Homo sapiens: one gene and its partners. The protein of the gene in region 3 purifies or fractionates together with the protein of the main gene of each other region. This does not show direct contact. Each region holds a gene or a part of one and is shown on either strand. Other genes may lie near its edges.

The links.
Region 1: the proteins of PSG1 (region 3) and COL14A1 purify together in Homo sapiens (affinity purification with mass spectrometry; 2 studies listed by BioGRID and IntAct, with this or other methods). This does not show direct contact.
Region 2: the proteins of PSG1 (region 3) and TUBB1 purify together in Homo sapiens (affinity purification with mass spectrometry; 2 studies listed by BioGRID and IntAct, with this or other methods). This does not show direct contact.
Region 4: the proteins of PSG1 (region 3) and TCTN1 purify together in Homo sapiens (affinity purification with mass spectrometry; one large-scale study listed by BioGRID and IntAct). This does not show direct contact.
Region 5: the proteins of PSG1 (region 3) and STK39 purify together in Homo sapiens (affinity purification with mass spectrometry, with the first as the bait; one large-scale study listed by BioGRID). This does not show direct contact.
Region 6: the proteins of PSG1 (region 3) and SORL1 purify together in Homo sapiens (affinity purification with mass spectrometry; 2 studies listed by BioGRID and IntAct, with this or other methods). This does not show direct contact.
Region 7: the proteins of PSG1 (region 3) and ANKRD46 purify together in Homo sapiens (affinity purification with mass spectrometry; 3 studies listed by BioGRID and IntAct, with this or other methods). This does not show direct contact.

Annotation. Positions count from the first base shown.
Region 1 is NC_000008.11:120,131,602-120,135,101, forward strand, and holds part of COL14A1 (collagen alpha-1(XIV) chain isoform 1 precursor), read left to right. Parts: intron 1-3,500. UniProt on the Homo sapiens protein: Plays an adhesive role by integrating collagen bundles. It is probably associated with the surface of interstitial collagen fibrils via COL1.
Region 2 is NC_000020.11:59,017,991-59,022,228, forward strand, and holds the start of TUBB1 (tubulin beta-1 chain), read left to right. Parts: upstream 1-1,438; 5' UTR 1,439-1,532; coding exon 1,533-1,589; intron 1,590-4,238. UniProt on the Homo sapiens protein: Tubulin is the major constituent of microtubules, a cylinder consisting of laterally associated linear protofilaments composed of alpha- and beta-tubulin heterodimers.
Region 3 is NC_000019.10:42,873,214-42,876,713, forward strand, and holds part of PSG1 (pregnancy-specific beta-1-glycoprotein 1 isoform 2 precursor), read right to left. Parts: intron 1-3,500.
Region 4 is NC_000012.12:110,638,129-110,641,628, forward strand, and holds part of TCTN1 (tectonic-1 isoform 1 precursor), read left to right. Parts: intron 1-2,254; coding exon 2,255-2,389; intron 2,390-2,895; coding exon 2,896-3,021; intron 3,022-3,413; coding exon 3,414-3,499; intron 3,500-3,500. UniProt on the Homo sapiens protein: Component of the tectonic-like complex, a complex localized at the transition zone of primary cilia and acting as a barrier that prevents diffusion of transmembrane proteins between the cilia and plasma membranes.
Region 5 is NC_000002.12:168,241,096-168,244,595, reverse strand, and holds part of STK39 (STE20/SPS1-related proline-alanine-rich protein kinase), read left to right. Parts: intron 1-3,500. UniProt on the Homo sapiens protein: Effector serine/threonine-protein kinase component of the WNK-SPAK/OSR1 kinase cascade, which is involved in various processes, such as ion transport, response to hypertonic stress and blood pressure.
Region 6 is NC_000011.10:121,556,814-121,560,313, forward strand, and holds part of SORL1 (sortilin-related receptor preproprotein), read left to right. Parts: intron 1-500; coding exon 501-592; intron 593-1,777; coding exon 1,778-2,024; intron 2,025-2,705; coding exon 2,706-2,844; intron 2,845-3,500. UniProt on the Homo sapiens protein: Sorting receptor that directs several proteins to their correct location within the cell. Along with AP-1 complex, involved Golgi apparatus - endosome sorting.
Region 7 is NC_000008.11:100,549,760-100,553,259, reverse strand, and holds part of ANKRD46 (ankyrin repeat domain-containing protein 46), read left to right. Parts: intron 1-1,526; exon of another isoform or gene 1,527-2,720; intron 2,721-3,500.

The DNA of each region.
Region 1 (3,500 bases), on a different chromosome or scaffold from region 3:
GGATATCAGACCTTTGTTGGGTCCATACTTTGCAAATACTTTCTCCTATTCTGTAGATTGTCTATTTACTCTCTTGATAGTTTCTTTTGCTATTCAGAAGCTCTTTAGTTTAATTAGATCCCACTTGTCAATTTTTGTTTCTGTTGCAGTTGATTTGAGGACTTAGTCATAGATTCACTGCCAAAGCCTGTGTCTGGAATGGTATTTGCTAGGTTTTCTTCCTTTTTTCTTCCTTTCTTTTTTTTTTTTTTTTTTTTTTTTTTGAGACAGAGTCTTGCTCTGTCACCAAGGCTGGAGTGCAGTGGCGCTATCTCGGCTCACTGCAACCTCTGCCTCCTGGGTTCAGGCGATTCTCCTGCCCCAGCCTCTCTAGTAGTTGGGATTACAGGCATATGCCCCACCATGCCCAGATAATTTTTTATATTTTTAGTAGAGATGAGGTTTCACTGTGTTAGCCAGGATGGTCTTGATCTCCTGACCTCATGATCCACCCGCTTTGGCCTCCCAAAGTGCTGGGATTACAGGCATGAGCCACTGTGCCCAGCCGATATTTGCTAGGTTTTCTTCTAGGATTTTTTTATAATGTTAGATCTTACATTTAAGCCTTTAATCTATTTTGAGTTAATTTTCATATATGGTGAAAGGTAGGAGTCCCATTTCATTCTTCTGCATACAGCTAGCCAGCTATTCCAACACCATTTATTGAAGAGGTAGTCCTTTCCCCATTGCTTGTTTTTGTTGACATTGTTAAAGATCAGGTGGTTGTAGGTGTGTGACTTTATTTCTGTGTTTTCTAACCTGTTCCGTTTTCTGTGTGTTTGTTTTTGTACCAGTACCATGCTTTTTTGGTTACTGTAGCCTTGTAGTAGAGTTTGAAGTTGGATAATTTGATGCCTTCAATTTTGTTCTTTTTGCTTAGAATTGCTTTGGCTATTGAGGCTCTTTTTTGGTTTTGTTTAGAATTTTTTTTTTTTCTATTTCTGTGAAAAATGATGTAGGTAGTTTGATAGCAATAACATTGAACCTGGATATTGTTTTGGGTAACGTTCTTTTTTTTCTCTTTGAAACAGAGTCTTGTTCTGTCACCCAGGCTGTGTTTTGGGCAGTATTCTTATTTTAATGATATGAAATGAGTTATTTTTAAACAAAGTACAAATTACTAAAACTGATTTTTTATTATACAGGAATTATGAATAAAACATTAGACACAAACATGTTGAAAAAGTTGTTAAAAAGTAACCTCTCCAAGAGTACTGAACTCTCCCCATGGTTTTGCAATTGAATGCTAATGAAAATGTAAAAAAATAAAAATACCGTGCTATTATAACTGTTCCGGCCGGGCGCGGTGGCTCACGCCTGTAATCCCAGCACTTTGGGAGGCCGAGACGGGCGGATCACGAGGTCAGGAGATCGAGACCATCCTGGCTAACACGGTGAAACCCCGTCTCTACTAAAAATACAAAAATTAGCCAGGCATGGTGGCGCGTGCCTGTAGTCCCAGCTACACAGGAGGCTGAGGCAGGAGAATGGCGTGAACCCGGGAGGCGGAGCTTGCAGTGAGTTGAGATCGCGCCACTGCACTCCAGCCTGGGCGACAGAGCGAAACTCCGTCTCAAACAAAAAAAAAATAAAAAAAAAAAAAATAACTGTTCCAAAGTACAGTATAGAGAAAGAAGAAAAAATTCTGTTATTTTTTATAAAACTGGAAAAAATAATACTGATATCAAAACTTGACACAGCATAATAAAAAAGAAAAGCTACAGATTAATTTCACTAATATTGATGTACTTATTGATATGAATAGCATATTAGTAAATAGAACCCAAAAGAATAATTCACAATGATCAAGTTGGGCTCAAATTTTACAGGTAAGTTTAGTATTAGAAAATGGATTAATATAATTGTCATGTTAAAAAGTTAAGAGAAAAAAGTTAGAGGATATTCTTCATAACTACTACAATAATTTAACATTTTATTTCAGATTAATAGCTCAATAAAGTTTACACAGATGGAAATTTACTAAACATGATACATTTATATCAGTATATTTGTGTTTGTCTTCTCTAACAGTCTGTCTAGCCATGTGTCTTCAAAATCAAAGTCATGCCAAAGAAGCATTGCTATTAAAAATAAGAACAAGACAAAGTTTCCAGGATAAATATTCTGGAGATAGTAGCCAAAGTAATAAGAAAAGGGAAAGAAATGAAAAACATAAAATTTGGAAGGTAAGAAGAAAGATATCATCTACAGAAAAAATTAAGGAAATCAATTTTACAAACTTTAAGACTTTGAAAAAATGTTAAACTATTCAAGGTAGGTTACAAAATTAATATAAAAATAAAATTGCTTTACTATAATTAATAAACAACTTGTTTAAAAGTGATTAAGAAAAATCCATTAACAGGAAATAAAACATATATGTATATAATATGTAGAAATAAACTCAAAATGTCAAATTTATATAACTCTTTAAAGTGCTCATGAAGAAATGAAGATGACTGGCTTGAATAAACAAAGAATATATTCTTTTTTGATGTAAAGATGGACTATTGTATAAAAAAGGTCGATCTACCTAAATTGGTCTACTAATTTAACATGATCCCAATTTTGAGGAGTTTTTGGTACCTAGTCAAAAATAATCAGAAAGAAAACTTAAAAGAAAATATTAAAACATATTATAAAGTTTTGATATTTACAATTACTTAATAGTCACACATAAATAGAAAATCGATAGATTCGAAAATAAAATATAGCATTGTTAACCTGTGATCAAAAGGTAAATTATTCTATAAGTGGTATTGGACTAATTGGATAGACATGGAGAATAAAAGTTAAAACTTTTTCATTTACATCAAAATAAGTTTTAGATGATCAAAGATTTCAATTTAAAAATTGAAAATGTAAGAATACTAAAAGAAAATATAGGAAAATGCTATAATTCCAAAGGAGAAAGAGACTTATATGCATGTCATAAACCATAGGAGATAAAAAAGAAAAAAAATAAATATTGGGCAACGTGTTTTATCATATATGATGGAAAAAGAGCCACATATTAAATACAAAAATTTCTCATAAAAAGATGAACACTCCTAGCTGAGTGTGGTGGCTCACGCTTGTAATCCCAGCACTTTGGGAGGCCGAGGAAGTCAGATCACTTGAGGTCAGGAGTTCGAGACCAGCCTGGCCAACATGGCGAAACCCTGTCTCTACTAAAAATACAAAAAACAGTTGGGTATGGTGGTGCATGCCTGTAATCCCAGCTATTTGGGAGGCTGAGGCATGAGAATTGCTTGAACCTGGGAGGTGGAAATTGCAGCGAGCCAAGATTGCACCACTGCACTCCAGCCTGGGTGACAGAGTAAGTGAGATTCCATCACAAAAAACAAACAAACAAACAAAAAACAGATGAACAATCCTATAGAAAAATGACCAAGGATATGCTAGAGAGTTCACCGAACAAAAGACAGCTTAAGTAAATGAAAGATGTGCAGTCATACTTT
Region 2 (4,238 bases), on a different chromosome or scaffold from region 3:
GTTGCTCACCGGATGGTGGTTGTCCACATCCTCGGGGCTTCAGGAGTGAGGCCTTGCCCTGTACCTGCCCACCTGCACCTCGACAGCTCAACAGGCACAAGGCAGCGTCCACTGGCTCTCCCCTTCCGAGCCAGGGCTCTCACGCCTTCTCAGGGAGTCCCTTCCCCATCTTCCTTGGAAGCTTCCACCTTCTGTCCTCCAGGCGGTGGGGAACTGCCACCCTCCTGGGCAAGGATATGGAGCTGGTGTTTGGCCTGGATGCCCTTGCCTGGTTGGAGGTAATAAAGCCTAGGGCTGGCTTTCGACGATGATAGAAACTTGGTGGCAGGGGAGGTACTGAGGACCAGGAGACAGAACAGCTGCTTTCAAGCTGCTGAGTACCCAGCCTGCTGCCACTCCTGTACACCGCATGAGGGAATGCTTTTTTTTTTTTTTCTGACAGAGTCTTGTTTTGTCGCCCAGGCTGGAGTGCAGTGGCATGATCTCGGCTCACTACAACCTCCGCCTCTCAGGTTCAAGCGATTCTCCTGCCGCAGTCTCCCGAGTAGCTGAGACTACATGTGTGTGCCACCACACCTGACTAATATTTGTATTTTTAGTAAGAGATGGGGTTTCGCCATGTTGGCCAGGCTAGTCTTGAACTCCTGACTTCTGGTGATCTGCCCACCTTGGCCTCTCAAAGTGCTGGGATTACAGGAGTGAGCCACCACACCCGGCTCTAAGGGAATACAATTGGGAGTCCGTTTTGCTCTTGGAGAATTCAGGGTCTGGTAAAGGGACCCTATGGCAAACATTAAGACCCCAGACACCATGAGCTGAGATGGGACGACAGAGCAGGGGCTGGGAAGGGTGCTGGGGCACAGCCCAGCCCTGGCATGGATAGGGCAGGGGTCCAAGAGACCTGCAGGACACTGCAGAGTAACTTGCATACAGGGCGAGAGAGGGCATGTGGGGGAGGGCGGGCAGACAGTGCCTGATGCAGGCCATCCCGGGACCTGGGACCTGCGAGGCCCAGTTGTGGAGCCTCCTGCTGTGGCGGGGCACGGGGCTTCTGGGGACCAAAGTCTGGAAAAGGGGCCGGGAAGATGGACAGGGAAAGCCCTTGGAGGTGGTCTGGTTACCTGGGTGAGCTAGGAGCCACAGTCATCATACCACGGTCACTAGGGCCAGCATGGTCACCTAGAAGCCTGCAAACAGTGCCAGCCTCCAGGCCCTGTGCCCCGAGGTGGCCTTTAATCTTGCACTCACTCTCTAGGAAATGATGGGGCAGTATTCTGTGTTGAGGGAGGAAAAACACTCCCTTCCAAAAGCATGACAGGCAGAAAGCAGAGAAGGGCCAGGACTGGCTGAGGGCGGGGAGCTGGGCCTCTGGGGTGGACACACCCTTGGTCACATTGTGAGGGTAGCTTGGTTGGCCAGTCCCACCACTGCAGTGACCACAGTTGTGTTGGGCTCACACCAGTGAACCGAAGCTCTGGATTCTGAGAGTCTGAGGATTCCGTGAAGATCTCAGACTTGGGCTCAGAGCAAGGATGCGTGAAATTGTCCATATTCAGATTGGCCAGTGTGGCAACCAGATCGGAGCCAAGGTAAGTAATGTCTGGTTACTAATCCTAGCTTTACCACAGTCCATAGAGGCGGACAACCAAAAAAATACCCTAAGTTAGCAGGGAAGACAATAAGTCTAGCAGATTTAATGTACTTGCTAAATATCAGACAATGCCTTTGGGCTTTAATTCTTAAAAAAAAATTTCACATGGGAAAAGAAGGAAACAATCTTTAACTAAAGAGCTACAACACACATTAAGTGCTTAGAGTGTTAATTTAATTAATGTTAATTTTATCCATAGATACATATGTACAATACATGCCGACCATTATATTACATAATACGTTTATCATCTTTTTCTTTGCCCACTCTGTTGCCCAGGCTGGAGTAGAGTGGCAGAATCATGGCTCACTATAGCCTCAACCTCCTGGGCTCAAGCTATTCTCCTGCCTCAGCCTCCTGAGTAGCTGGGATTACAGGCATGCACCACTATGCCTGGCTAATTTTTAAATTTTTTTTTGAGAGACAGGGATCTCACTTTGTTGCTCAGGCTGGTCTTGAACTCATGGGCTCAAGTGATCCTTCTGCCTCAGGCTTCCAAAGTGGTGAGATGACAGGTGTAGGCCACCGTGCCTGGCACTTTTATCATCTTTTATTTTTTTGAGATGGAGTGTCACTCTTGTTGCCCACGCTGGAGTGCAATGGCGCAATCTTGGCTCACTGCAACCTCCACCTCCTGGGTTCAAGTGATTCTCCTGCCTCAGCCTCCCCAGTAGCTGGGATTACAGGCATGCGCCACCACGTCTGGCTAATTTTGTATTTTTAGTAGAGATGGGGTTTCACCATGTTGGTCAGGCTGGTCTCGAACTCCTGACCTCAGGTGATGTGCCCGCCTGGGCCTCCCGAAGTGCTGGGATTATAGGCGTGAGCCACTGTACCTGGCCCACTTTTATCTTAACAATGAACTTTTCATATCTAAAAACAGTAATTTGTCTCAAAACAGCTTTTTGAAGTTTTTTGAGAAACTTTCTGTACCCTGTCACTATGGTGTCTTTCCCCTCCCCTCTCATGTTTATTGTAACGCTTAAAAAAAATCAATTACTGTTTTATTAGTATGCAATTGAAAATTTAAGAAATTTAATTGAAAATAAAAGTTTTTTGTGTACAGTAACATAATTAATTAAAATACACTGTCTGGAATATAAATGAGTTTTTCTTTCCCTTGCCCCCCTGCTTAAAAATTTCCCCCAAGTACGTAACTTAATTGGCCAACCCCAAGAACACAGATGCCCGAACCCACAATCTCCAATCTTGATTTTAAGATGACCAATTGCACCGTGCAAAATTTATCGTGTTCTCTTTGCTGCTGTGAAATTACTTTTACTAATATGAGATGCATTAAAAGTGAGGTTTTGAAACACCTACATTCATCATCCATCAATGACACTTGGGTTGTTTCTGCCTTTTGGCTACTGTGAGTAATGCTGCCAGGAAACAACTAAGGCTTTTAAATGCAGGCGTTTTAAACCGGGGGCAAGGAACATTACTGCTTGAAAAGAAGTCACCATTCCTCCATGCCTCAGGGGTAAGACATTCATAACTCACACACAGAGAAGTGGGAGGCAGGAGCCCTGCTGCTCTGAAGCTGGAAGATAATACGGAAAGGGGCCCTCAAGAGAAAGTGTTAGGTTTAGATAGGGTTTTAGCTCTCACTCTGGAATCGTATGGTCTAGCGTTGAGAGTCCTGGCTGACTCATCATTTAGAGATATAAGAACTTTAAGACACATTTAATTTGGGGTATCTTAGAACTTGAATTTATTTATTCTTCCACTCCCTGAACAGTGCTGGCAGTTTACCATGAACTGCCTTGTTATTAAGACCATGGCCAGAGCAGCACTGTCATTTAGAAGATATGGCTGGGGTTTTTAACATACCCTTGGGGATTTTAATATATGTGAATACATTTTCATTGCATTTTAATATGTGCCTTTCAGGGTGATCAAAAGGAGTCTTCCCAGTAACTGTTTCCATATTAAGAGCTTGGCACATATCTATATTAATAAGTACTGTGTATGTGACTGGAAGTGCAGTATGTTTCAAATAGTTACCAGAGGACAACTATGTGTAATTGTGAGTTGTATGTATACCTGACAATCAAAAATGCACATTACTGGCCGGGCACAGTGGCTCACGCCTGTGATCCTAGCACTTTGGGAGGCCGAGGCAGGTGCATCACCTGAGGTCAGGAGTTTGAGACCAGCCTGGCTAACATGGCAAAACCCTGTCTCTACTAAAAATGCAAAAATTAGCTGGGCATGGTGGTGGACGCCTGTAATCCCAGCTACTTGAGAGGCTGAGGCAGGAGAATTGCTTGAACCCAGGAGGTGGAAGTTGCAGTGAGCCAAGATTGTGCTACGGCACTCCAGCCTAGGTGACAAGAGTGAAACTCTGTCTCAAAATAAATAAATAAACAAACAAACAAACAAACATAAAAAAATAAAAAAAAGAAAGAAAGGCCGGGTGCTGTGGCTCATGCCTGTAATTCCAGTACTTTGGAAGGCCAAGGAGGGTGGATCACAAGGTCAAGAGATAGAGACCATCCTGGCCAACATGGTGAAACCCCGTGTCTACTAAAAATATAAAAATTAGTTGGGCGTGGTGGTGCGTGCCTGTAGTCCCAGCTACTCA
Region 3 (3,500 bases):
TTGAAACTAAGTGTTTTGGATGTCTAATTATTTTTTTATTTTGGAATATTTGCAGTACATGTACTGGTTTAGCATCCCAAATCTGAAAAATTTAAAATCCACAATGCGCCAGTGAGCACTTCTTTTTAGCATCACATCAGTGGTCAGAAGTGTTGAGTTTTGAGCATTTCAGATTGTGGATTTCTGGATTTCCGATGCTCAATTTGTAACAGTGTAATTTTTCCGTAAAAATTTGTCAGGAGTTTAGACCTCATGTTATATTCTGACTCTAGTAACAAAAAAAATTTGGAGGAAACATTAAAATGTTTTCATAAGTGGAAATTTTTACTGATGGTCCAAACATCTAAGATCAATTGCTGGTAGTAGTATTTCTCTTGAGACCAAAATAAGGTTTAGGTGTGCCGTGAATTCCAGCAGGATCACGTTATGCTCAAAGAAAGATGCCAAAGGTGATTTGAAATTAGCAGCTCCTTAAGTAGAGAGAGTCCCATTGAAAGGACCGAACTGGTCAGTGCATCAATTACATAAAGGGAGAAAGGATGTCAAATTAAAAGAAGTGATGTGTGTTATGTTAGTAAATATAGAAAGAACTCCCTGCTTCTAAATTCTGTGCAGAGTTAGGAAAAATGGGGAGGACCTCAAAACAGGTATGTGAAATGCTTTCTTCATTTTCTCTTAAGCTCAGGAAACACCACTAGAGTTTAAGTTTGTGTGAATTAGGAAGAGTCTAAGTGAGATGGCAATGGCTCTTGTGTCTCCCCACACGAAGATCTCCAACTTATGAAAATGACATCATCATGAGGAAACAGTTATAGGTGGCACAGGCAGTAAAACCATCAGATAACACCCACCTGGTCAACTCCAACTAGTCCCCAAAACCACCGGTATTCCCATTACGTGTACATTACAGTCTTTGTAGTTGTCCCACAGCTACAAAATTTAAAAATTGCTATTGTCAAAACAAAATATTAAATATGAAGTTGAATATGTTGTTCCACTTTTTTTCCCCACTCTTTTTGAACTTTCCTGTTTCAGTTTTGGAAGTTTCTGTTGACACATCCTCAAGCTAGGTATTCTTTCCACAGCTGTGTGCAGTCTACCAGTAAGCATCAAAAGCATTCTTCATTTCTCTAACAGGGTTTTTTTTTTCTGAGACAGAGTCTCGCTCTGTCACCCCGGCTGCAGTGCAGTGGCATGATCTCAGCTCACTGCAAGCTCTGCCTCCTGGGTTCACACCATTCTCCTGCCTTGGCCTCCCAAGTAGCTGGGACTACAGGGGCCCGCCACCATGCCTGGCTAATTTTTTGCATTTTTAGTAGAGACGGGGTTTCACCATGTTAGCCAGGATGGTCTCTATCTCTTGACCTTGTGCCCGCCTCGGCCTCCCAAAGTGCTGGGATTATAGGCGTGAGCCACTGTGCGCAGCCGTCTCTGAGGGAGTTTAATGAGTTGTTGCCTTTTGAGTTTGTTCAGCTTTTTACTTAGTGTTAGAACCGAGTGACAAATTTCAAGCTTGTTATACGCCTGTCAGGAAGCTAGAACTCTCTAGAAAGTGACCGGAGAATGTGAGCTCCATAGCAGGTTGAGGATGGCGTCATGAGTGAGGATGGGGTCAAGAGTCCACTCAGAGATGGAGTGCCCAGCCATCTCTGAGGGATTTTAACAAGTTGTTGACTTTTGAGTTTGTTCAGCTTTTTACTTAGCGTTAGAAACCAGTGACAAATTTCAAGCTTGTTATATGCCTGACAGGAAGCCAGAAGTCTATAGGAAGTGACTGGAGAATGTGAGCTCCTTAGCAGGTTGAGGCTGGAGTCACAGGTGAAATGAGCCCATGGGGTTTGGGGACAGCAGGCCTGTCCAGCCTCTGACACCCTGGTGAGTCAGTGCAGAGATTACAACAGTGACAGCAAACTAGCATGGCTGACTCCATCTGGCATCTAGTCTCAGGCTGGCTGTCCTCACTCATTCCTGGGCATAGGCCAGGTTAACCTTGGGAGGAATTTAGTTTATGGTTTAAACTTGAAGCAAGAATGATAATAGTTCCTCCATAAAACTAACACCCTTACTTTGTCCAGGGACTGCCTTTGTAAAACTAGTGAAAGACCATGAGATTAAGATTATAGGAGGGAACTGAATTTTGCTAAAATGTAGGCACAGTTTCTATAATCCCTGACTGCTCCAGTGTCATTGGGACAGGGTTTACAAAATTTGTAACTAATTGCTCCTATAGATAACATCACTATTGTAGAACGTGAGATTGGTCTTTTGAGATGTTTCTCATTCTTTTGCATTCTGGCAACCGGCTGACCTCATCCATACCTATGACTAATGGCTCAGCCAGTCATGTGGTCCCTACCTAGAGGCAGATTCAAGCACAAACAGATCATGTCCCCCTGCCCCCATGATTCCATCACCAAACAATCAGCAGTACTAATTTTTTAGTCCTGTGGCCCTGAAACTATCCTTGAAAATCTCTAAGCCCTGATCCACTGGGGAGGCTGATTTGAGTAATAATAAACCTCTGTCCTCCTGTTTGGCAGACTTGGAGTCATTAAAATCTTTCTTTACTGCAAACCGCCATTTCAATTATTTTATTTTATTTATTTATTTGTTTTTTTTTTTTTTTGTGCAGGAGGCCAGAGGAACTTGTCTGGCAATTATGAGAGTGGATGGAGGAACTGCCTATCCCTGTCCCATGGTCTTGTCCACAGGTCAGCCTCACAAAGGGAAAGAGCCCTGGATGGGAATACAGTGGAAGGTCATTCTCTTAGTGACCTGGGGACATTGGCTCGAGAGGAAGCCTGGCAGGAGTGGCAACTCCAGATGATTTCTGTGCCTTTCCTCTTTCCTGGGAGGTGGGCCAGGCCACAGTGTTAGTGGGAAGGGAACTGAACAGCCAGAGTGGTTAGAGGGAGTGTCTAGGGAAGGCCTAGAGGTGGAGGAAGAAGCTGTGCAGGACAGGGCTTGCCAGTCAGAATGAAGTGGGAGGAAGATGAGGGACACAGAGAAGCAGAGAGAGGCAGATACACCATGGCAGTGAGCAGTGAGGGAGACACTGTCTTCAGAAACTCCAGGGACCAGGTGCCCCCAGTTCCATAGTCCAGGACCAAGGAGCCCTCGAGAACCCTCCGGTGGCTTAAGAGCTTCAGAATTACATGAGGTGGGGTGGCTTTAGGGGCAAGAGGTAGTGGGGGGATGAAACATGGATGTCAGCCTCTGAAGGACAAGGGACAGGTGTGGCTAGAACCTCCTAGGATTCTGCATCCAAGATCCAATCTCTAAAGAGGTTTTGGATCATTCATTTCTTCATTCCATTCCTTCATTTGTCATGTGAGAGCTCCTGAGTGTGTGTCTCTCTCGCTGGGCCTGTGGTGGTGTAGAGTGTGAGTGGGGAAAGAAAACAAGGTCCTCTCCTTGATCCTCTCATGACAGTGACAAGGACACTTTGGGAAACACAGGATTTCAGGTTCAGTGATGGTGGTTAAGATCTGAGGAGGAGG
Region 4 (3,500 bases), on a different chromosome or scaffold from region 3:
GGCAGAGCTGGGACAGGGATCTAGGTGGTCTGGCCCCAGGGACCTTATACTTTACCACCATACTGGGCCAGCTCTACTCTGTGAGCCCATGTGACAGGCTTCACACACCTTCCTTCTTTGCATCCTGTGGCCACACAGGACGTGGCAGACTGGGACTTCCAACTTAGGTCTGTGTGACACCAAAGGTTGTGCTCTAAAGGACAAGCATGTAAACTAATAGTAGGAATTTGTTTAAAATTTTCTTAAAAAGCAGATTTTAAGGTTAGAGGATCAGGAGTATAGAAATTGGGTCTAATCTCCCCACTAAGTGAAGACTGTTATGATTGCCTGGAATCATTGTCAGTATCTGTGGAGCCATCAGTGAAAGATTCCAGGGTAGCCCTGTAGTTTCATTGAGTATGCTGGAGTTCTTTACCAGTGTGTGTGTGGTTTGGGAATGGTATGTGGTAGAAGAGGAATCAAGGAAATCAGCACAGCGCTACTGTTTCCTTCTCGGGACAGTTGAGTGAGCTGTCGAGACGAGGGCAGCTCCTGCCATTGACACCAGGACTCTCCAAAGCTCATTGACACTGAATCCTTCGGTTTTTGCCAATTCCACGCACACACCATGGAAGTGGCTCCAGCAGAGGCTGGTATGGCAGGCTATGCTCTTTCTTGGAACCCGGTGTCATTGCTGAATCAGGGGCCACTATGCTCAGAGTAAGGAACCCGGGGTTGCCCTTGTGTTAAACAAGAGCTAATTGAATAACAGCCTAGGACCCCCTCCATGCTGAAACCCCTTGGTGCGGCATGTTATGCAGAGGGCCTCACAGTGACTAGCATTGCCCTTCTGCCATTCTCGTCACATGACAGCTCACGTCTTTGTTACTGAGTCATGTCACTTTCTTCTATGAGAGGTTTTGACTCGCAGGTCTTCTTGGTCATGGGAGCAGACACATAAGGACTGCTTATTTATCTCTAAAATAACTGCTTAAATACTTGGTCATTTTGAATTATAAACAGCATGGTGCATGATTGAGTGCAAGTTCAAAGTGGTATAAACAACTGTTAATAGATACATGAGGCTCCTTCCTCAACAGTGGTTTCTAAGAATTGAAGTTTAGAGCAAATGACAGATTCATCCTATAGTACGAGGAGGCTCAGCTACCTTTAGAGGATGGCTTGATGCCTTGTTACTCTGCTGGTGGTGGCCATGAATGCAAAACGTCCTTTAATAGCACTGGGATAAGCAGGGCTTCCCTGGTGCTGCTGAAAATGTTTGTCTGTGTCTGTTTTTTGTTGCTCATAATCCTACCACCCAGAGAAACCACTGTGTGTGTGTGTGTGTGTGTGTATGTGTGTGTGAGCGTGCTTGCGCTTGTATAGAAGTTGTGTATAAATTGGGTCAAATGAATATTCGGGGGTGTGTGGGGGCTTAAGGATATATATCCTGGGACTGCATGTGAATGTGCATGTGTGGGTATGGAGTGTGTAGGAGTTGTGTTTTGGAGGTGAGGATATATATGTGTGCTTGACAGTGTGATGGAGTTTTGTGTGTATTTGAGATATAATTCATATACCATAAAACTCACCATTTTAAAGTATACAATTCTGTGGTTTTTAGTATAGTCACAGGTTGTGCAACCATCACCACTAATTCCGGAACATTTCCATCACCCCAAAAAGGAGCCTTGTGTTAGCAGTCACTCCTCATTCTTCCCCAGCTTTGTCCCCCATCCCCTGGCAACCACCGATCTACTTTTCGTCTCTATGGGTTTGCCTATTTGGACATTCCGTATAAATGGAATTAGAACTGTGGCCTTTTGTGTCTGGCTTCCATGACTTAGCATGTTTTTAAGATTCATCTGTACTGTGGCATGTATTAGTACTATTTTTAGGGATGAGTCATATGCCTTTGTAAGGCTAGACTTTGTATTTATCCATTCATCAGTTGATGGACATTTAGGTGGTTTTTGGTTTTAGCTATTTTGATAGTGCAGCTGTGAACATTTGTGTACAAGTTTTTGTGTAAACTTTATGTTTTCAGAGGTAACTACTTTTAAAGTTTTGGTTATATCCTCTCAAGTATTTTCTTTGTGAATGTATATATGTTTATTACTTTTGCAAATGTGGATCATAGTATATACACTGTTGTGTAGCATGCTTCCCCCTACTTGGCCATATATCAGGGGAGGTTTCTTTCCAGTTGGTTGGTTATTTTAGCCCATCCTCCCTGGGTAGAGCATCTTCAACACTCCAGGTCTTCACTCTGCAGGTCCCTATCACTGTTCAGTCCATCGTCATTCAGTCTCTAAATAAAACGCTCACCCGACGGGAGGACACTGATGTGCTGCAGCCGACTCTCGTCAACGCTGGACACTTTAGCCTTTGCGTGAATGTTGTTCTTGAGGTAGGTGCCGAGTTTGGCTTTGAGAGCTTGTCTGTGGCAGACTTAAGCCTCTTGTTGCGCCGGGGTAACTGGACGCCCTCCGAGGACGCTCTGTCCCAGCCCATGGTGTGGCTTTTCTTGGCTCAGCTGCCTGCTTGTCTTTCTGCTGTCTCATCAAAGGACACCTCTTGTCTCCACAAACTTAGTGACTTGCCGGAATACATCAAAATATTTTTGTTGTTGCTGTTTTTGTTTTAACATGTTTCCTCTGCAGAGATAGGCTTATTGCATTCTGCTTGGACCAGCTTATGTGGAACTTCTGTAATTGGGCAGAGTGGCTCAGATGACCCTGTCTGCTAGGGGTGGTGCTGAGGGAACACCTCTCATAATCCAACTGGACAGCAGAGCAAGGCTTCAACACATGGAGAAACAGGGAAAGATTTGCTATCTATGGGTGTTTTCAGTTATTCATACAGCTTCTGAAATGTAATGGAACAGGTATATTTGGAGTATCATTTTGTTTTTAGGTAAAGTACAGCCTCACATACACAGATGCAGGTGAAGTCACCAAAGCTGATCTCTCATTCGTTCTGGGGACAGTTAGCAGCGTAGTGGTCCCACTGCAGCAAAAGTTTGAAATTCATTTTCTTCAGGTAAGGTTGATCAATTTGGCATAAGTATTTAATTGCCAAGTTAAAAAGAAATAATGACTTCTCAGTGGATAAAACTGAATTTCTAAGTATTACATCCAAGCCTTTGTAGTGAACAGAGGGCTTTGTGTAGCCTGTGCATTTGTAATGAAACCAAGCATTCTCCTTGTATCTTTTTTCCTTTTGGGAAAAGATTCCCTTCCACATTAGCTTGTTCTTTTACAGTATGATGTACTCCTACACCTGGCAGATGTATTTATAGTTCTGAGTAGGGAGGGAGAAATTCTTTTATTGGTTGGTAATTCCATATTTTATTATGAAAGAAGAATTTTTCTTCCTGCCATTTCCTTATTAAAATGAGAATTATTTGGGGGCATTTCTGCATTGTCTTTCAGGAAAATACCCAGCCAGTCCCTCTCAGTGGAAACCCTGGTTATGTCGTGGGGCTCCCATTAGCTGCTGGATTCCAGCCTCATAAGGGA
Region 5 (3,500 bases), on a different chromosome or scaffold from region 3:
TTTTGCTTAAACATTACACGCAGAAGTTAGCAGTTCAAACACTGAACCAGTTTCAACATGAATGCCAGTTGACAGCCTTTGCTTCTACCCGCCATACGGCAGGTGTCATATGATATGACTCCAGCAGTGTGAACCGTGACCAGCAGCAGGAGGCTCAGATGTGCCTGAACAGAAAACCAAAGGAGGCACCGTGTTTTAACTTTCCAGCATGGCACGGGCACGGAGGACTTTTTCTTCATTTCCTTCTGGGCAGAGTTTGGTCCCCCAGGATTAAGAGAGAATAAGTTTACTAAAATCCAAACAAAGCAGGTTCAGTTGTTTGACTTCAGTTTTAGAAAAATAAACACAGGATTTTGCAAACCTAAAAATAAAGTTTTCTCTTTATTGTATTGTTGTTCTTGTGTTTTAAAACGTCAGTGGAGAAATTGTAATGCTCTTAGGAGTATTCTGGTTCATAAGTTTATTCATGACCTGGAAATGATGTAAAATCGATGGGAGGGAGCTTTATATTTACAGAGGGGTTAAAAATGTTGGAAATTATTAAATTCCTTCTTCCAGACATTGATATCCTTGTCTTAGTAGATTTCAAATATTTCTGTCTTTTTGGAGGCTTTCCGACCTGTTTATACTCTTCAGCCTTGTTAATCTTTGTTCCTTACCTCTCTAAAGAAGGAATTTGGGGGTGAGTTGAGCCCCCAAAAGTAGGTACCCCTACCTTTAGAAGTATAAGGGGCACTTAAAGCTATGCCAGTTGAAAACTTAGTTTATTTGTTGGGGGTGTTAATAATATTACCTAGATTTGCTAAACAGGGAATGAAAGTGAATCATATAAGTGTTTACTTGGCCATCCGTAATGGAATGGAGCAGCCTCAATGAACTTCTCATTCAAAGAATTGTAGTCATTGAAGTACTAATTTCTGTATTTGAATTAGGTGATTCCAGCAATGTTGTTATCTTTGCTGAATTTCTTCTGAGAAACCCTAGACTCCTGCCTCAGCAGGAGTTTGTTTGATTTTCTTAGGGTTTTTGCAGGATGCACCTTTCTTTATGTAGTTTTATACTAGATTTCTCAGCATTGCTTCACTTTTGTCCCGGGTGGTCATTTAGAATGACCTAAAAGTAACAAATTGCCATCTTAGTCAACACGAAGAATTTGAGTTCTAGAATCCTGGACATGGTTTGACAGAGGGTTCCTTTGAATGCTTTATTTCTCTCCTGTGAGGCATTGTTTATCCATTCAGGTGCGTTTTACTCAGGTCCAGGTAATAGCACATATGGCCAGGTCTTTAAGGAGCAACAGCCTCTTGTAAAATGAGATTGTAAATAGCCCTGGGCATTCCCACTTTGCTCTGTGCTCTCAGAGTTTCTGTGGATTTCTATGGTTTGGGGGTTAGAATTGGTTTTTATAGATATCCTAGAGGCAGTTTGAGGACAGTGGTACCTTCGCTGGCGCTAGGGTAAGGGAGCCGGAGCACTGAGTGTGTTCTGATCTCCCAGACCTTTATACCAGGCTGCCTTGCTGCTGCAGTGGGTTCTTTGATCTTGATTAGTTTGTTTGTTGTTGTTTTTAAAATACTAAATGATGTCTGAAATGCTTTGTCTCAAGACAGGGCTTTGATTTTCATTTCATTTCACTTTCTTTTTTAATAAATAGAAAAATGTATATAGAAATGTTCTTTTGTATTTTGTATTTTTTTTTTTTTGATAAAGGGTCTCACTCTGTCACCCAGGCTAGAGTGCAGTGGTGCAATCATACCTCACTGCAGCCTCGAACTCTTGGGCTCAAGTGATCTTCCCACATCAGCCTCCTGAGTAGCTGGGTCTATAGGTGCAAACCATCATGCCTGCCTAATTTTTTTTTTCTTTTTTTATTTTTAAGAAATGGGGGTCTCACTATGTTGCCCAAGCTGCTCTTGAACTCCTCCGCTCAGCGATGCTCCGGCCTTGGCTTCCCAATGTGTTGGGATTACAGGCGTGAGCCACTGTGCCTGGCCTCTTTATATATATATATATATATATATATATATATATATATTTTTTTTTTTTTTTGTAAGAGTCTTGCTCTGTTGCCTGGGCTAGATTGCAGTGGCGCCATCTCAGTTCACTGCAGCCTCTGCCTCCTAGGTCCAAGCAGTTCTCCTGCCTCAGCCTCCCGAGTAGCTAGTATTACAGGCCTGGCTAATTTTTGTATTTTTTGATAGAAACAGGGTTTCACCATGTTGGCCAGGCTGGTCACAAACTCCTGGTCTGAAGTAACCCGCCTGCCTCAGCCTCCCAAGTTGCTGGGATTACAGCGTGAGTCACTGTGCCCGGCCTCTTTTGTATTATTTTTATTGTGGTAAAATATACACAACAAAAATTGTACCATTTTAACCGTTCTTAAAGTGTGCAATTCAGTAGCATTAATTATATTTACAAGATAAATACTCTTTTAAATGTGCTGTCATGGGGCTGGGGGGAGAGATCTCAAGATCTCTCTTGAAACTGTGGTAAAGTGACTGCAATCCTTTATTTATGCATTTGATTTTTAACTAGTGATATTATGAATTCTTCCCTGACTTTTATGGTTTATTGTATAGTACATTTTGTGATGGTGTTTGAAAATAAGTTGCAGCAGTGCCGGCTCTGGAGTCTGACAGCCTGGCCTGTTTCATGTCCTGCAATGGCGGTCACTGACGCTGCGACCTTGAGCAAATGACTTAGATGTGTCTGCACTCAGTTTCCTCATTGGTAACATAGGGATGATAAAAATAGGGTTGTGAGGAATGAGAGAATGTAAAGCACTGAGAATCGTGCCTGGCACACAGCATGCTTTCAATTAGTCTTAGCCATAACTTCTATAGACTTCATTTGCTAATCAGATGCAAGTTATCAGGAGAGAACACAGTCCTATCTTTGGCAGGATTCTGGAGTGGCTTGAAGATTTCTGTGCTATGTTTCTAGCAGGGAGGAAGTGGGAAAGAGAGGTTGTTCCCTATTCCCACTCTTGTGCTGGGCTGCTGGAAGGGGCTTACAAGGGGAGAGGCCCCTGGGGATCTGGCTTCCCCTTGCACCTCCACTGCTGTGGGAGGAAACTGAAGAGACCTGTGGAGCTCCTGGCAATTTGGACAGCTCAGGGGTTTAGGTGCCAAATGGCCCTCTGACAAGTGATGAGAGCATCCTGCGGGAAGGTTGCTGAAGAGGAGCAGCCCATTATGAGAGGGCTCCGAGAACAACCTGCTAGGACTGCACTTTTCCTCCACCTCTGAGTTTGCCCGGAGGCTGCCATGCTGGCAGGAAATGCTGCTGACTAAAAGAAACGCTCCCTGTGTGTCCCAGCCAGTGCGAGGACAGAGGCCTTCATTTTCAGATAAAGTCATCACCATTGCTTCCCTGTCTCCTTCTTTCCCTCTTTGCTTTTCCCTCAGTTTATAAATATTCTCAAGCCTGTCTCTTATGTTTAAATGACAAAAGAGAACAAAACAAAACACTCTCCCTACTTCTTTCTCCTCTGGCTACTC
Region 6 (3,500 bases), on a different chromosome or scaffold from region 3:
TCCGCATCAGGCTTGGAGAAGCAAGAGATGACCAGCCTGGCTGACGGGAAGGAGCAAGAATATGAGTCCCACCTGTGGACTCTTCATTGCAAGGCTGTGACATTGAGAATTTGTTTTATGGGAGTGTGGAGTCATCGATTGCCTTGGAACGTGGAGTGACACGGGATGGTGAAATAAGTAAATGCTCATTTGCTTATTTACTTATTTGAGTAATTTACTTATTGATACTGCTTTGTCCAGATCATCATGCCCTGGAAACTGGGGCTTACATGGTTCTAGCTCCTCTTTCAGACCACTTGAAAATTGTCCCATGAGTCAGAGGAAGGAACAGCGCATTGTGACTAGAAGTTGGGGCAGGTTTCGCAGATGGGTCAGGTCAGGGAAATAGGCAGGCATGGAGGGGGCATGTCTGTAGCAGAAGCTGAGTAGCCATCTTTGGCAATGGGGGTCTTTAAGGAGCTCCGATCCATCTCAGCCTCTTTTCCCCCTGTTTTTGTCAGGTAGCTAATCCAGATGGCGACTTCCGACTCACAATCGTCAATTCCTCTGTGCTTGATCGTCCCAGGGCTCTGGTCCTCGTGCCCCAAGAGGGGTAAGTGTTGCCCCAAAAGGAAATCAGTCTTGCGTCCAATGCTACACTAATAGATTCTCATGGAAACACAGACTGCGGGACAAAAACTCTGTTTCTCATGATGGTGGTTGAAATGGTCTATTAACTGAGAAGTTTGAGACCACAGCTTAGTCATCGTGGTCAGGTAACTCCGTTCGCTTTTTGTTAGCCAGTGTCAGAGTCTCTTTAGGCATCCAGATGTCTTGCATCTGTGGGTTGTTTCTCTAGAAAAGTTGATGTTAAAAGAGAGCTTCTGTAGACATAGACAGGCCTGCTTGGATATTGTGAGAACTTTCTCTTGAGTTTCATGCATGGTACAAACATTTAATTCATTCCATCTTTCCCCTGCCTTCCCAGCATGTGTAGGTTTTCTTACGTACAATCAGTGTGCACTTGGGGAAGGCAAAGGTGCTTTTTATTAACTCATTAACTGAAGGAAACATAATTAAGAGGGAAATTCTGGATTTGACATTCTGGCTTTTCCTCTCTCGTAGCATTTATGATAGAGAATTGGCACAATTTTTTTCAAGGAAAATTCTAAGAGTAATGTATGTACTTGGTTGACAATATTTAGAGAGAACAGCACTTTATGAAAAAAATTTGCATTCTTCCTTTTCATTCTTAACCCTTTACCCTCACACTTCCTAGTGGTAATCATTGTTAATAATGTCTTGTGTATCTTTCATGATTGCTTTTACTTATGTACAAGTATTATCTTTAAAACACACACATATACACACACATGCACGCCAAATAGGATTGTAGTGTAGTTACTATTCTGTACCTTTTTAAACAAACTTAATATGTATTGAAAATAGTTCTGTGTGAGCATATATAGATTTTTAGGTTTCACAGTATTCTATTATATGTACCATAATGTGTCACTTCCTCTGCTGATTAACATTTAGTTTAATATACATACATATACATTTCTTTGTATATTATCTTTGCATAATTTGATTTTATCTATAGATAAATTCTAGTAAAGGAATTTCCAGGTGAAGGAATTTAAGTAGTTTCAGGTGTTGTCATTACATATTGTTATAATAATGCTGAAATAACCAGCCGGATCATTCGAAAGGAGTTTCTGACCTTTTCTGGAGTAGTATTTGAGCTCCCATTTCTCTAGTATTGATGAGGTATGTGTTCTGTCCCCATTTTCGCTAGGGTGATGTTCTGGACAGACTGGGGAGACCTGAAGCCTGGGATTTATCGGAGCAATATGGATGGTTCTGCTGCCTATCACCTGGTGTCTGAGGATGTGAAGTGGCCCAATGGCATCTCTGTGGACGACCAGTGGATTTACTGGACGGATGCCTACCTGGAGTGCATAGAGCGGATCACGTTCAGTGGCCAGCAGCGCTCTGTCATTCTGGACAACCTCCCGCACCCCTATGCCATTGCTGTCTTTAAGGTGAGTCCATTTGTTGCTGCCGGACAGTCTGCTAGAGCGGGTGAGGAGCATATGAGATCAGGAGCCTGCATCCCTGGGCTTTGCAGAGAAGCTGTTTAACTTCTTAAAGGTTGCCTTTTTTCCAAATTTGAGATAACTTATTTTCAGCCTATGGAGGGATGCCAGGCAGAGGCGCCAAGGGTCCAGGCTCCCCTGCTGTTCACATTTCAAAAGGTTAAAAGTGAAGGCTCTTCCCATGAACATTCCCAGTTTGCCCCTCAGTGTCAGTAGCCTCATTTCAGGGTGGTGTCTTCATTTTTTGTGCGCTTTGCTCACTTTATTCTCTGATGACTTCCGGTGAGCTCTGCACCACCTATAGTGCCTTGCAGTTCTTTTTCGACTCTGGAGAGCAACATGGCTCTTCCCAACTCTGGGAAACAGATTTCAAACTGAGGGGGTTGGGTTTGTGTCATAAACTTGAATGCTTATCAGATAGTTTCTTTTGGGCAGTTTCTTCTGTGGGGTTATATGGTGAGGTTTGGATAAAATTGCTGTCCTTTGCATTTAAGTAGAATCTTGATCAGGCTAGTCATTCAGCCAATAAATGTTAGTTGTCTCCTGCCTGGGGGAACTCTTACCCTTAGAGAGAACCAGAATAAAGAACGAAAGAGCTGGACTAATGGGCAAAGGTTTTCTTTTTAGAATGAAATCTACTGGGATGACTGGTCACAGCTCAGCATATTCCGAGCTTCCAAATACAGTGGGTCCCAGATGGAGATTCTGGCAAACCAGCTCACGGGGCTCATGGACATGAAGATTTTCTACAAGGGGAAGAACACTGGTAAGCCAGAGTCTCTTCTTTTGTCTCTGTAGAGTTGATCTCAAGAAAGGGGCTGCGTGTGGCCAATCTCTGCTCAGAGTAGGAGCTGGCAGCCTGCATCTTTGTTGTCACGACAACATGCACATTATTTAATTTCTTCCTAATGACATCTTAATTTCTTTTCTAATGATACACAAACAGCTGGAAGACAGCATGCTTTTGCCTGCCTAGAGTGTTGGTGCTTGGTGGGTAATTACACCCTCCTCCTGCCCTTGGCCCCTGACTGATTGGTGGCGCGGCTTCTGTTGCAGCTGGGAGAGTCCTAACATGTGCTTAATCCCTGTTTGGCATGCTTGCAGGAAGAGACTCTGTGCTGGGTGCTCAGATAGTTGTTGCTTCCTGACAGGGCCTCTTGCTTGTTCTCTGGTTGCCCAGATGACCTATTGCTCATTGACCGTACCTACCTCTGCTGGAATGGCACTGTGTAGTTAGGTGTTGTTTTAATTAACTTTTCCCACCATGAAACCCTAAACCCCATGAAGAAAGAGATGGTCTTTTTTATTCCCCGATAGTTTTACCAGTGTCTAGCACTTTGTAGGTGCTCAATTCATATTTGTTGAAAGAATAAGGGATGAAAAGGGAGGGGAAGAATTGCAGTGGGTGCAGACAGTAGCTGT
Region 7 (3,500 bases), on a different chromosome or scaffold from region 3:
GATTTTTTTTAAACACAACAAAAACTGTGGATTGCTTATAAAAGTTTTCCCACAATAGGCTTATTTTTATTTCACTTGTTTATTCAGAATATCCTTTCAACTTGTTTTTCGGTTATCTCCTTGGTCAGTTCTAGAATTTACCAAGCTCTCAGTCAGTGTTCAATCTCCTGTGCTGAACATGAGATTTCTTAGGCCTGGATTCAGCTCCTTCTCAAAGAGAGTTAAATATCAGTGCACTTCACCCTTTGACCTTTGTCTTTTGCTGAAACATGTGCCACAAACCATATTTTTTTCCTTTTTAGGAAGCAATGACAGAAGCATATAAGAGTGGAAATCAAATAGTAATGACCACTTCAGATTCTGTGTCATTTAGATATTTTGTTCTAAGTAACAGAAAACCTAATTTAAACTGTCTTAAAAAGATCCTTTATTGATACCCGTAATAGGAAAAGCCCAAGGCTTGACCCTTTTATCTGTTCTGCCTCACTCTGTATACTTGCTATCTATGAAATATAAAAATGACAAAAGCAATTTTAGGTATCTCATTTATACACCATAGAAAAATAAAGTGAATGTATTTCTCTGGCATTCCAAGCAAAGAGTTTTATTGGACTGGTCACTTGCTCACCTTTAAATAAACCACAATAGCTAGGGAATGTGATATGTTACATGGCCTTAGATAATAAAGACTGACCCCTCCAAAGCATATGAGCAGTGAAGAGTAGTGGAGTTGGGTACCAGTGGAACAGGTAGGAATGGAGTCTAGGTAGACAGGGGACATCTGAGGAAATTAAAAACACATAGTTGATTTTCAGTCAAAATAATATATTAAATTCATGTTTGGGCACCTGGCAATAACTGATGTTAAAAAAAAAAAAGCGCCAAAGTATAGTCAGAATAGTAAATAGGATAACCATCTCTATAGAGTACAAGCACAAAGTAATGAGTGAGGCTGTAGCTGTTTTGGAATTGGCCAAAATGGAAATCATCCAATATCTGATCTCAGACGAAAAGGAATTAAATTACAATTTGATAACAGAAAGATAGCCGGAAAATCACTGAATACTTAGACATTAAATAACACATTTCTTTTTTTTTTTTTTTTTTTTTAAGACAGAGTCTCACTCTGTCACCCAGGCTGGAGTGCAGTGGCGCGATCTTGGCTCACTGCAACCTCCACCTCCCAGGTTCAAGCTATTCTCCTGCCTCAGCCTCCCGAGTACCTGGGACTACAGGTGCACACCACCACACCTGGCTAATTTTTGTATTTTTAGTAGAGACGGGGTTTCACCATGTTGGCCAGGCTGGTCTTGAACTCCTGACCTCAGGTGATCCGCCCACCTTGGCCTCCCAAAGTGCTGGGATTATAGGTGTGAGCCACAGCACCCAGCCCAAAATGTTTTCAAAAGACATATATGATGAAGACTGTTATCCAAAATACACAAAGAACTCTTAAAACTCAACAAAAAGAGAGGTGGGTATGGGTGCTGGCTGAGGTCACTCAGTGCTGACCATCCTCTTCTCAAAGCCATGTCTCTAAGACATCATGGTGAAGGTGAAGGCCAGAGTAAATAGATTTGGGCCATATTGGGCACCTGGTCACCAGGGCTGCTTTTAACTCTAGTAAAGTGGATATTGTCACCATCAATGACCCTTCATTGACCTCAACTACATGGTCTGCATGTTCCAGTATTTCTACCCATGGCAAATTCCACCACACCGTCAAGGCTGAGAATGGGAAGCTTGTCATCAATGGAAATCCCATCACCATCTTCCAGGAGCAAGATCCTACCAAAATCAAATGGGGTGATGCTGAAGCTGAGTATGCCGTGGAGTCCACTGGCATCTTCATGACCATAGAGAAGGCTGGGGCTCACTTAATGGGGGAGCCAAAAGGGTCATCATCTCTACCCCCTCTGCTGATGCCCCCATATTCATAATGGGCATGATCCCTGAGAAGTCTGAAAACAGCCTCAAGATCATCAGCAATGCCTTCTGTACCACCAACTGCTTAATCCCCCGGCCAAGCCCATCCATGACAACTTTGGCATTGTGGAAGGACTTGTGACCACAATCCATGCTGCCACTCCTGCCCAGAAGACTCGATGGCCTCTGTGGGAAACTGTGGCATATGTCTGTGGGGCTCTCCAGAACATCATCCCTGCATCTACTGGTGTTGCCAAGGCTGTGGGCAAGGCCATCCCCGAGCTGAACAGGAAGCTCACTAGCATGGCCTTCCGTGTCCTTCTGCAAACGTGTTGGTTGTGGACCTGACCTGCCATCTGGAGAAACCTGCCAAATATGATGACATCAAAAAGGTGGTGAAGCAGGCGTCAGAGGGCCCCTCAAGGGCATCTTGGGCTACACTGAACACCAGGTTGTTTCCTCTGACTTTAACAGTGACACTCACTCTTCCACTTTCGATGCTGGGGCTGCCATTGCCCTCAGTGACCACTTTGTCAAGCTCATTTCCTCGTACAACAGTGAATTTGGCTACAGCAACAGGGTGGTGGCCCATATGGCCTCCAAGGAGTAAGACTGCTCGACAACCAGCCCCAGTGAGAGCACAAGAGGAAGAAAGAGACCTTCAGCTTCTGGGCAGTCCCTGCCATGCTCAGTCCCCCACCACACTGGGAATCTCCCCTCTTCACAGTTTCCATGCAGACCCCACAAAGAGCTCTATCTTGTCGTGTACCATCAATAAAGTCCTCTGTACTCAAAAAAAAAAAAAAGATAGAAAATGAACAACCTGATTTTAAAAATGAGCCAAAGATCTTAATGGACACCTCATCACAGAGGATATACAGATGGCAAATAAACATATGAAAAAGATGCTCCACGTCATATGTCATCAGGGAAATGCAAATTAAAACAATGAGATCCCACTACACACTTACTAAAATGGCTAACTAAAATCTAGAACGCTGACAACACCAAATGCTGGTGAGAATGTGGATTAACAGGAACTCTTATTCATTGCTAGTGGGAATGCCAAATGGTACAGCTACTTTGGGAGACAATTTGGTGGTTTCTTAAAAAAACTAAACATACTCTTACCATCCAGCAATCATGCTCCTTGGTATTTACCCAAAGGAGTGAAAAACTGTCCACACAAAAACCTGCATGTGGGTGTTCATGTCAGCCTTATTCATAATTGCCAGAACATGGAAGCAACCAAGATGTCCTTCAGTAGGTGAACAGATAAACTGTAATACATACAGAGAATGACATATTATGCAGTCCTAAAGAGAAACTATGAAGCCATGAGAAGATACAGAAAACACGTATTATGAGGGAAAGAAGCCAATCTGAAACAGCTGCATACCGTATGATTTCAGTTATATGACATTCTGGAAAAGGCAAAATTATAGAGACAATAAAAATATCAGGGGTTGGGTAGAGAGAGGGATGAATAGGCAGAGCCCAGAAAATTTTTAGGGCAGTGAACCTAATCTGCCTGATGCTATAATGATGAATACATGTCATTGTAAATTTGTCTA